Linked DNA regions of Homo sapiens: region 2 is linked to region 1. The links come from fine-mapping of genetic effects on gene expression. A gene starts in region 1. The other region holds a variant in brackets. All regions are shown on one strand. Distances are between the middles of the regions.

Region 1 (5,382 bases):
TCTTTCTTCTGCCAAACTCTGCCCAGGAGGATTTGGTGTCTAAATCCTGCACATTGAAGACCAACCCTTAAAATGAAATTTGTTCAAATTCCAGTGGCAAAATCAGAGAGGAAAATGTTCTATCAGAGAGAGGAAATATTTCCCACCATGTCTGCAGCCCTTAATCCGTGAGGTCAACATGCCCAGCTGCATGGTCTTCTGGCAGAAGTGTTATTGCAGTCATCCACAGCATGCTTCTAGGGGCAGGACTTAATTGAATTTAACAGCAGCTAAATGCTCAGCTAAAAAGAGAAGTTATGGGCTGGGTGCAGTGGCTCACGCCTGTAATCCCAGCACTTTGGGAGGCCGAGGTGGGCGGGTAATGAGGTCAGGAGTTCGAGACCAGCCTGGCCAACATAGTGAAACCCCATCTTTACTAAAAATACAAAAAATTAGCTAGGCATGGTGGCGGGCACCTGTAATTCCAGCTACTCGGGAGGCTGAGGCAGGAGAATCGCTTGAACCCAGGAGGCGGAGATTGTAGTGAGCCGAGATCATGCCATTGCACTCCAGCCCGGGTGACAGTGCAGGATTCTGTCAAAAAAAAAAAAAAGAGAAGTTATGGAAAACTGTGATGCTGCAGTGAAATGAAATCAGGCTGCTATGTGTCAGGCTGCGATGTGGGGCCCTGTGTCCTGAGTCACACACCAAAACAGGAAATCCCCTATTCTCATCTTGAAAAATTTATTAGTAAAATAAAGTAAATAAGACCAAGAAAAATAAGGCTGCTATTATTTGAATCATTTAGTGAAAAAGAAAAGCTTTCTAGAACCAACAGAACATGGTAATGAACACTCTGCCCCCATACTTATCAGTCTGTATTGGCATTTTCTGTGTAACATACCTTTCTTTCCTACTAGAAACAGTTTCTCTAGTTCAGGATCTATGTCTTATTTATCAACTCCCAAAACTGTCCCTTCTTTGAATTCCTTTGATACTTAATACCCAAGTCACTCATTTGGCATTTATGTTACCTTGTATGGTCTATTGTATTTCTATTCTGTTTATACATAGTGACTCTTGAACTAGACTATAAACTCCTTCGAGGTAGAAGTCTTGCTTTGAACATTTTGTGTCCCCATTTGTTATTTGTTGAAAACAAGGCATGCCAAGGAAGGTGCTAAGGGCTGGATATGGGATAAGAGACCCTGGTCTACCTTTGGGGATTCACAATCTGGGGAATTTCCTCAGGCAGGGCACAAAACCTATGAGACAATCCTGCTTTCCTGCTGAACTTGGACCTGGGACAGGGTGGGGATGGGTGAGGCTGGAGCTGCTGCAGCAGCGTGCCTCCAATGCCTATAAATTTCCTGTTGGCTCTCATCCGTCTGGGCTGAATTTTCTATCAACCAATAGAAAATACAGACAGGTATTATGAAAGAGGGTGTTAGGAAATCCCATGCAATTATTATACATGTCACAAATGTGTGGGTGCATATGCACCTGTGAGTGTGTGACAGACAGAGAGGGAGGAAGAGCACTAGGAGGAAATGCCATCTGAACTGAATCTTGAAAGACAAACGGGAGTTAACGAAAGATGTTCCTGAGAGAGTGGCAGGTCTGTGCTTGCATCCTGATGTCAGAGTCAGATAAACTCCAGAAGCCTCAGGGCCTCTGCACTCTATCCCAGTGCTTCCCCAAACTCCTGTTGAGGGCAGACTCTTTTAGAATATGTTAACGAATGGATGTGCAGAAGAAAACTATCTTCTGAGAACAAAATTGCTCTAGTTTCTGCATTGCTGGTTTTCTCTGAACCTTTAATATGCTGATAGGCACTCAACAACAGAATCCTTTGTTGGCAGAGCACAAATTACCCTCTGTCTGTTGAACAGTTTCAGAAAGTTTATGAAGCACTTTTCAATGAGGTGTGGAGTAATAAATGATTCAGCAACACTTAAGTCCTGCCACCCTAGGCCTAACTGGTTACACTGTCATGAAAATTTACAAATTACATGGTACCAAAGACAATATAAACACAATCTATTGGGTAAACAATTGCATGATGGATTACTGTAGACTTATCAATAGTTATGGCATAATTCAGTCTTTATTTTTGCATATGAAAGGCTCTCACGCAAGCATTTTTCTGTAGCTCATTGGAATACAGTACAGATGGCCTGGATCAGTGCAATGTGCAACAAGAGGACTATATCGTCTCAGTAAAAACCTTGAAGAGATGAACCCATTTCAGAGACCCAGCAAGGGATCACCTGCATATACAGGCATCAGCAGAAACAGGAATTTGGGATTTATCCTGGAGGTAGTGGAAGCTTTTGGAGGTCTTAACCAGGTGAATGCAATGATTGGGTATATTTTAGAAAGCTCATTCACAGGGAGAGAGGACTTGAAGCGGGGTTGTTACTAGAGACAAAGAAACTAGTTAGGAAGTTATTTCAGGTAATGAGGGAGACATAATTTAGGGGCTAAACCAAGGAAGTGACAATAGGAATGGAGAGAAGGCACAGCTTGCGAAGCATTTAGGTGGTAGAACTGATTGACTCAGCTCTGAGGCAGCTGTGGGGGTGAGAAGCTGGGGTGGGTGAGGGTGGGAAGAGGGTGGGGAGGGTTGGAGGAGTCAAGAATGAACCATGACTTCTGGTTCGTGCAACAGAGTGAAGAGCTGAGGCCCCATGGTTTCCAGGCAGCCTGTGCCAGTGAGAGAAATGCAGAATAGAGTTTGATTTGAACTCTGGCTCTGTCAACGACTTGGTACTATGGCCTTGTGCAAGCAAGTTAACGTCTCCAAGCCTTACTTTTATCTTTTGTAAAATGGGACGATGATACCCCGCTCTTGCATGTGTGAAATAACTAACACATAGTCTGTGCTTCAGAAGTGAAGTCACTGCTACTCAGAGAACACAGAAGGAGAAGCAGTTTACAGAGAAAGATGAGTTTCATTTCAGAAACACTGCACTTGAGGTGGCTTGGACAGCCATGTGGAGGTGTCCAGTAAGGCATTAGATATATAGGTATGGAACTCAGGAGAAAGATCTGGGCTGGAGAGAGTTCTAGGGGCCACTGACTTTTTGATATTAGGCCAAGGCAAGGAGGTAAATGAGAACAACCAGAGAGAGTGTGGAGAGGGAGAGAAATGCAGGCCCTAACGGACGGCCTTGGGAGCATCACCATTCAACAGCTGAGGAAAGGAAGCAGAGCCGGCAAGGGAGATGTTCTGGAGCCTGCAGGGCTGTGCAGTCAGAAGGAGGCGCAAACCAGAATCTGAAGACGCAGGTTTGAGTCTCAGCTCCCTTGCTGACTAGCTGTGTGATCCTCGCAATTCAGGTAACCTCTGTAAGCTTGTCTTCTCATTCGTCAAATGGGAATGCTGCTGATAATGTCTACTTCCTGGAGACTTTGGTGAGCTAAGGTGTATAATTTTTTTTTTTAAGCTAGAGAGCCTTATAAGTGGTTCCATGTGGTCATTTTTTCCCCCTAGACTGAATCGGCTTACATCTAAAAGCAAGGTCACTTTAAGAGGGTCTCTGTGACTCTGGCCTTGCTTGCTCAGCAGGAATTCCAGCCTGCTCAAATTCCTCTAGGCAGCTCTGGGATCCCTGGGCAGGAGGTACAGTACCTGATGCCTGAGTGCCCCAAACCCCTTCCGAGGAAACGGGGCCTTAAGCACAGGCCCTCACGTTGTCCCACTTGACTTCACCACCCTGGCTACACCTGGTGGGAATTGGGATGGGCCCTGTTCCCAGGGGAGCTGACCAGCTGACCAGCCGACCAGCCAGCAGCTCCCCACGTCTGCCCGGGGTGAGACAGGAGAATACGGTCTGGAGGCAGGGAACATAAGACTGATTCATGCTGACTTCCTAGAACTAAATCAAATGGAAATACTTCAGCTATTACAGGAAATATCCTCACCATTGACACAAGGCGTAAACCCAGTAAATGTCTTTGTAACTTTACTTGATCCTCTTCATTTACACAGGGCGTACACCAAGTAACCAATGGAAACCTCTAGAGGGTATTTAAACCCCAGAAAATTCTGTAACAGGGCTCTTGAGCCCCTATGCTCGGGGCCACTCCCACCTCATTTTCAATAAATCTCTGCTTTTGTTGCTTCATTCTTTCCTTCCTTTGTTTGTAACTTTGTCCAGTTCTTTGTTCAAGACCCCAAGAACCTGGACACCCTCCACTGGTAGCAAGGGGGCCATGTGATAGAGATCCTGCCCCTCTCCTGTATGGACATTTGGACTCAGCAAGCGAGGCCAGAGTCACAGAGACCCTCTTAAAATGACCTTGCTTTTAGATGCAGGCTGATTAGTTGCCAAAGCCCAGCAACTGGCAGGATGGGAGACATGGTGACAGTGTCTGGGTGGCTCATGGAGCCCCTCACAGCCATGGGTGGTGGCAGGAAATGGGCAGAGGTGCCTGGTGCCCAGGGTGGGGCTACTCTCCACCTGCCTTTGTCAGGCTGCTTCCCAGTTTCTTTTTTTTGGTCTGTGTTCTTGTGTGTCTCACAATGCACTCCATTTGTTAAAGTAACTTGAGAACGTGGCCATGTCTTGTGGCTTAGAGGAGGCTAATTGTCACGGGAGACTCTCACGATCTCTCAGGAGGGAGTGGAGTTTTCTCAGAATAAAGAGCATCAGCTACAGTGAAGAATGGAAATGGGGCTAATGTCTATTGACTGGGGACTGGTGAGCAAGATCATGGCACCTCCGCACACGATGAAATCCTGCAGCTGGAAAACAGAACAAGGAAGCTCTTTGTGTACTGATAAGGAGTGATCTGCAAGATATTTTCCTAGGTGAAAAATGTGAGCTTCAGAATGGTGTAGCAAAATGAAACTCAGAAAATATCTCTAGAATATTACACCTCATCTAATGACGCTGGTTGCCTATGAGGAGGGAAGCTGGGGGCCTGGGGGCAGTGATAGGAGAAGAAATTTTCACTAAGCATTGTGTAATAATTTTCCTAAATCTTGAATCATGAAATTCAGTCACCTCTTTAAACAATCAAATCAGAAAAACATCTATTAAGAACATGACCTATAAAGTTGAGCAAGTCCTATGCTTGGGCTTGCCCCCACAATTTATTGCTGGGTAAAGTTGAGCAAGTTACTCAACCTCTCTGAACTCATTTTGCTCATCTGTAACATAATCACAGGCTTGCCTCCACAATTTATTGCTGGGTAAAGTTGAGCAAGTTACTCAACCTCTCTGAAGTCATTTTGCTCATCTGTAACATAATCACAGGAATAATACCTGCCTGATAGGGCTGATTGGTTATTGTTGTTGTTTTGTTTTCTTTCTTTCTTTTTTTCATTTTTTTTTTTTTTTTGAGACGGAGTCTCACTCTGTTGCCCAGGCTGGAGTGCAGTGGCACAATCTTGGC
Region 2 (5,382 bases), 41 kb before region 1:
AAGTGGATGAATGCATGGAGAATGTACTAAACCCGGAAGTGTGCCAGACTCTGCACCCGAAAGTTCTCTGCAGCTTCTCCAACTTTAAGAGTGTTCTGCAAACACACTGAATGCTTTGCCTGGATCTTCCTGTGAAGATCCAGGCAGAATTTAGTAATAGAAATTTGTAAAATTTATTCTTAAATTCTTTTGCAACTGTCTTGATTTCTTCACAAACATAGTCATCATCTGTTTATCAAATGGGCATTTTAAATAATATTTGACACATAACTGGCTGACTCCACAGCTCCAAATTAGTCACACGGTAGTCTTTTGATAATAGCCAACATGTGACAACAGGGATTTTTTGCACGAGGTGGGGAGCATTCTGGTTTCCTTTTCATTTTTCCAATATGTCATATTTCTCACTTCCACTTTTCTTAGAGGGGAGGGTTGTCTTTTTGCTTCAAACTATTATAGGCTTTTACTGAGAGACAAGAGGCTATGAGCCCCACTCAGTAGAAGAAGGGTTTAAGTCTATCATATAAATTATTGCCGCTCTAACTTCTCTCTGTCCCTGCCTCTTAAGTCATTTACGGTATTTGTTTGGGTAGCTATATTGGATTTCTTCCGTTTTTCCAGGGGAAATACAGCAACTTTGGAGAGACGTGAACATGGGAATATATGAATTGATTGCTTGAGAAGTGTTAGTGTTAGTTCTGGAATGAAGTCCTGTGTCATTAGGTGCTTACGTTGAAAGGAAATGTAGAATTTTCCATAGTCGCAGCTTTCCAGATTTTAATTGGCTGCTTGCCCTCGTGTCACTTTCTTTTCTAAAATAAATGTTTTGGATGGCTCTTATCTTTACAACCAGGCACACAGCTTCATTTCCTCCTAACTAGGAAAGTTAACTCTTCAGCTACATGGTGGTACACAATGTTGTCCCTGCTCAGCAGCCCTTGAACACTCATTAAATCCCACATTAGAGCTGCAAGGAGATAGTAACATTTATTAGGTGCCTCATTTTTTTTTTTTTTCTCTGAGAGCGGATCTCGCTCTGTTGCCCAGGCTATAGTGCAGTGGTACCATCAGGGCTCACTACAGCCTCAACCTCCCAGGCCCAAGTGGTCCTCCTGCCTCAGCCTCCTGAGTAGGTGGGACCACAGGCACACTCAGATATTTTAAAAAATTTTTGTAGAGACTATGTTGCCCGGGCTGCCATTGTTTATCCATTGATTTTTTATTTTATTTACTTATTTTTCTTTTGTCTTTTTTGTTGCCTAGTTTCCCCCCTGTTCTTTGCTTCTTAATTTTGGTTGGTCAAAATCTTTCTTTTAACATTTTGTTTCCTCTTCAACCTTGGGAATTCTTCTGTTTCTATTCTTTCTTGCCTTTTCCTTGCTTCATTTCAGGACTCCTTTCCAATGAACCTGCCATTTTTTCCTGCAAAGATTGTAGTTTAAAAGAAAGCCCACTGGCCTGAAACTTTATGTAGCTAAGCAGCTATTTCAAATTCTTTCTGAGGTTGAGGGCAATAAATGATAAAATCACGCAGTCAGGCAGTGTGTTAGTTCTCTAAAGACAAGAGTTCAGAGTTCTGAGTTCTCCAAAGACAAGAACTAGTATATGAAGAGGTTTATTATAAGAAACTGGCTCACATGATTACAGAGGCTGGCAACTCCAAAATCTGCTGAGTAGATGTCCTGGTTTGAGTCTGAAAGCTGGAAGCTGCTGTAGAACCCAGAAGAGCTGATGTCCCAGTGCAAAGGCATCAGGCAGGAGAGTTCAGTCTTACCAGGGTCAGTCTTTTATTCTATTCAGCCCTTCAACTGATTGGGTGAGGCCCACCCACATTATGTCTGCTTTACTCAAGACAACTACTAATTTAAATGTTAATTTCATGTAAAACACTGATATGGCTGGGCTGTGACCCCACCCAAATCTCATCTTGAATTGTAGCTTCCATAATTCCTTCGTGCTGTGGGAGGGACTCAGTGGGAGATAATTGAATCATGGAGGTGGTTTCCACCATACTGTTCTCATGGTAGTGAATAAGTCTCACAAGGTCTGATGGCTTTATAAGGGGAAACCCCTTTCACTTGGCTCTCATTCTTCTTGTCTGCTGCCATATGAGATGTACCTTTCACCCTCCACCATGATTGTGAGGCCTCTCCAGCCACATGGAACTGTGAGTTCATTAAATCTCTTTCTTTTGTAAATTGCTTAGTCTTGGGTATGTCTTTATCAGCAGCCTGAAAACGGACTAACACACCCTCACAAAAACACCCAGAATAATGTTTGACTGACCATCTGGGCACCTTGAGGCCCTGTCAACTTGATGCATAAAATGAACATCTCAGGCAGCTCTTGCTTTCTCAGTTACAACAGGCCCCGATCCTGGCCTTTGGGTTATTTGTTGTTTGATATATACAGAAATTAAACCCAAATTTAAAAAAAAAGGGACTGAAATCTCAATTCCTAACCATGGCATTATTTTTACATTTATACCATTCTGATGCCTGTTTACCACATTTTGTGTGCATTCTTTTTACTGGTCTCTGGTCATCTGTCTCCCATTCTTCACAAGAATTGTTCCAAATCTTCTCCCCTTTTCACAGGGTCCCTTTCCAAAACTCCAGCTCTTTTGTGCTTTGCTTAAGATCTGGCCTCTTCCCAGATAGGAGAGGTTGTTTACCTTGCTAAGGTCACACAGCTACTGTATGGTAAGACTGGGATTTAATTTGAAGCAGTTGGTCTTGGTAGTCATGGGAGCCCACTGGGTGCTGGGTGCT[G/A]GGCACTGTGCCACGTGCTAAATGCCCCAGACTTCCCCATGCTGGGTCCTCCTCGTGCTGGGAGGGTGTGTACTCTTCCAGCCAGCATGCCCTGCCCCTTCTGCATGCCACACTCTGCTCTGATCTTCAGCCCAGCACCCGTCCCTCTGCACACAGGCCTTTGGCGCTTTGTTTGCTCCTATGATTTTCTGCTATTTTCTGTTTAATTCTCTCCTTTTTATTTGCATTATATAAACAGTTCTGTTTCTTTCATTAAGAAAACACCTCTCACAGGCACAGTGGCTCACATCTATAATCTTAGCACTTTGGGAGGCTGAGGTGGGAGGATTGCTTGAGCCCAGGAGTTCAAGACCAGTCTGAGTAACATAGTGAGACCCCATCTCTATTAAAAAAAAAAATTAGCCAGGCGTAGTGGTGCACACCTGTAGTCTCAGCTACTCAAGAGGCTGAGACAGGAGGATGGTTTGAGCCCAGGAGGTTGAGGCTGCAGTGAGCCAGGATCACATCACTGCACTCCAGCCTGGGTGACAGAACCAGACCCTGTCTCAAAAAAAAAAAAAAAGACAGCCCTTTTCTCTGACCCCTATGTCCCTCTCATTTGAGGAACTATCTATCTTTTCATTTTCCTCCACATTCTTTATTCTTTTTAACCTCCAAAGAGGCCCTCCACCTGCATTACGTGCCTTGCCCCATTAATAATGTACTAGTGCTATGTATGCTTGATTTTACATAAATGTTTTATTGTGCATTAAGGTCCATTCCCCATGCATATGCGCACATAAATTGCACTAATTAGAGTGCACAGCATGTTATATTGCAAGATTACATAAAATAGATTCAACACTTGGATATTGTCCAGTACATTAATTCCTTTCTTTTACATAGGACATAATATCATTGATTGTGCATGGCACATTAAGTCACATCAAGTCACATCAATCCTTAACAACATGCTTATCACTTCCAATAGGATTTCTTTACCACCAAGCTTTGAGAAACCAGCAACCTACTCAGGAAATGTCCTTCTTGCTTTGGGCCCATAAAACCTAGGGGCTTCTAGACTTGAAACTATACCTAGCATCTGGTTCTTACTTCAGGGCCATAGATTTGAAACCACTCATTTGTTCCCCCTAAATAAGACATCTCAGTGACTAATGACTAACTAGCACAAGATGACATGGAACTGTGGGGTCATGCATTTGGTATTTTTTAATTTTGGAGGGTGCTGTGATCCAACATGGCTGTCAATGCCTTGACACAGTCAGCTAGATCGTAGCTGCGCTTAAATGGAATATTCTTTACTCACATAAAATCATTTGGTGCTAATTGATTCATCTCAATGGACGTAATAAAAACAAGATATAGACACAGACACATACAAGCAGTTCTTCCTGCCATGTATGATTAACTTTGTAAACCCCTCTACCCTCCTTAAGCTCTTATAGTATCTGAGTAAGTCTTTTATTCTTGCCAACCCTGCCCAAATAAGAAACCTTGTATCTATTGACTGCTAACTAAGGCTCCTATATATACTCACATGCTATTAAATTTAGTTATAAGTTCATCTAGCATTAACCCAACTCCTAATTAAAGCATTTTTCAAAAATCCAAACATCAATTAAAAATTAGGCTTTCTAGGCTAAAAGTTTTTTTCTTACTAAGATTACCAAAAGAGCCCCCAATGCTAACATAGCACATAATTTAGCAGTTTTTTTCCCCAGGACAGAATTTTCTAGATATAAGTCGATGTAGCTCAGTCCACTAAAGTAAGGCACTGAAAATGCCTAGATGAGTTCATGTAACTGCATAAACACACAGGTTTGGTTCTGGCCCTTCTATTAATTCTTAGTAAGATTACATGTGCAAGTATCTGCATTGCATGTGTAATCAGCAAAAGAGCAAAAGGAGCAGGCGTCAAGCACACTAATTGGTAGCAACTAACGTCTTGCTCAGCCACACTCCTACAGGAAATAGCAATAATAAAAAGCAATAAACAAAAAGTTTGACTAAACTATGCTAATTTTCCTTAGGGTCAGTAAATTTTGTGTCAGCCACCACAGTCATAAACCCAAATTAATAAAATCTGAAAAGCACGTTTGTGTTTAGGATAATACAAATAAACTACAAAAATGACTTTAATATGATCTGAATACACAATAGCTAAGACCTAAACTGGGATTAAATACCCCACTATGTTTAGCCATAAACTTAAAGTTATTCACTAGAGTACTATCAGCAACAGCTTAAAACTCAAAGGACTTGGTGGTATGGTGTTTCCATCCCCCCTAGAGGAGCCTGGTTCATAATTAATAAGCAATGATAAACCTCACTATTTCTTGTCAATTCAGCCTGTATACTACCATCTTCAGCAAGCCCTAAAAAGGTCATAAAGTAAGCACAAGTACTTACATGGAAACATTAGGTCAACATGTAGCTTATGAGATGGAAAGAAATGACTTACATTGTCTGATTAAAGTACACCCAACCCATGATAAGCCTTATGAAACTACAGGCCAAAGGAGGATTTAGTAGTAAATTAAGAATAGAGAGCTTAATTGAATAAGGTTGTGAAGCACACATAGACCGCCCATTACCTTCCTCAAATGCTTCA

Alleles and levels. Positions count from the first base shown, and alleles are read on the strand shown. Sizes are in standard deviations (SD) of each study's normalised expression.
For the expression in monocytes after Pam3CSK4 of the gene that starts at base 2,148 in region 1, allele G in region 2 goes with a higher level than allele A (large effect, 1.0 SD a copy in Quach 2016).

What was found. PIP is the estimated chance that this variant, and not a neighbour inherited with it, causes the effect.
Region 2: its variant is fine-mapped to the expression of LINC01181 in monocytes after Pam3CSK4 (Quach 2016, PIP 0.95). The same link has a PIP of 0.9 or more in monocytes and monocytes after LPS.

Annotation. Positions count from the first base shown.
Region 1 is chr8:103,118,885-103,124,266 of GRCh38, forward strand. LINC01181 (long intergenic non-protein coding RNA 1181) reads left to right here and starts at 2,148. Exons shown (of 6, transcript NR_145429.1): 1 at 2,148-2,329. RefSeq lists an enhancer at 3,185-3,686.
Region 2 is chr8:103,078,170-103,083,551 of GRCh38, forward strand. No RefSeq gene overlaps it. Among named protein-coding and RNA genes, the nearest start is that of LINC01181, 40 kb to the right of the region's middle. RefSeq lists an enhancer at 368-537. The variant G/A (reference allele first, on the strand shown) is at 2,772.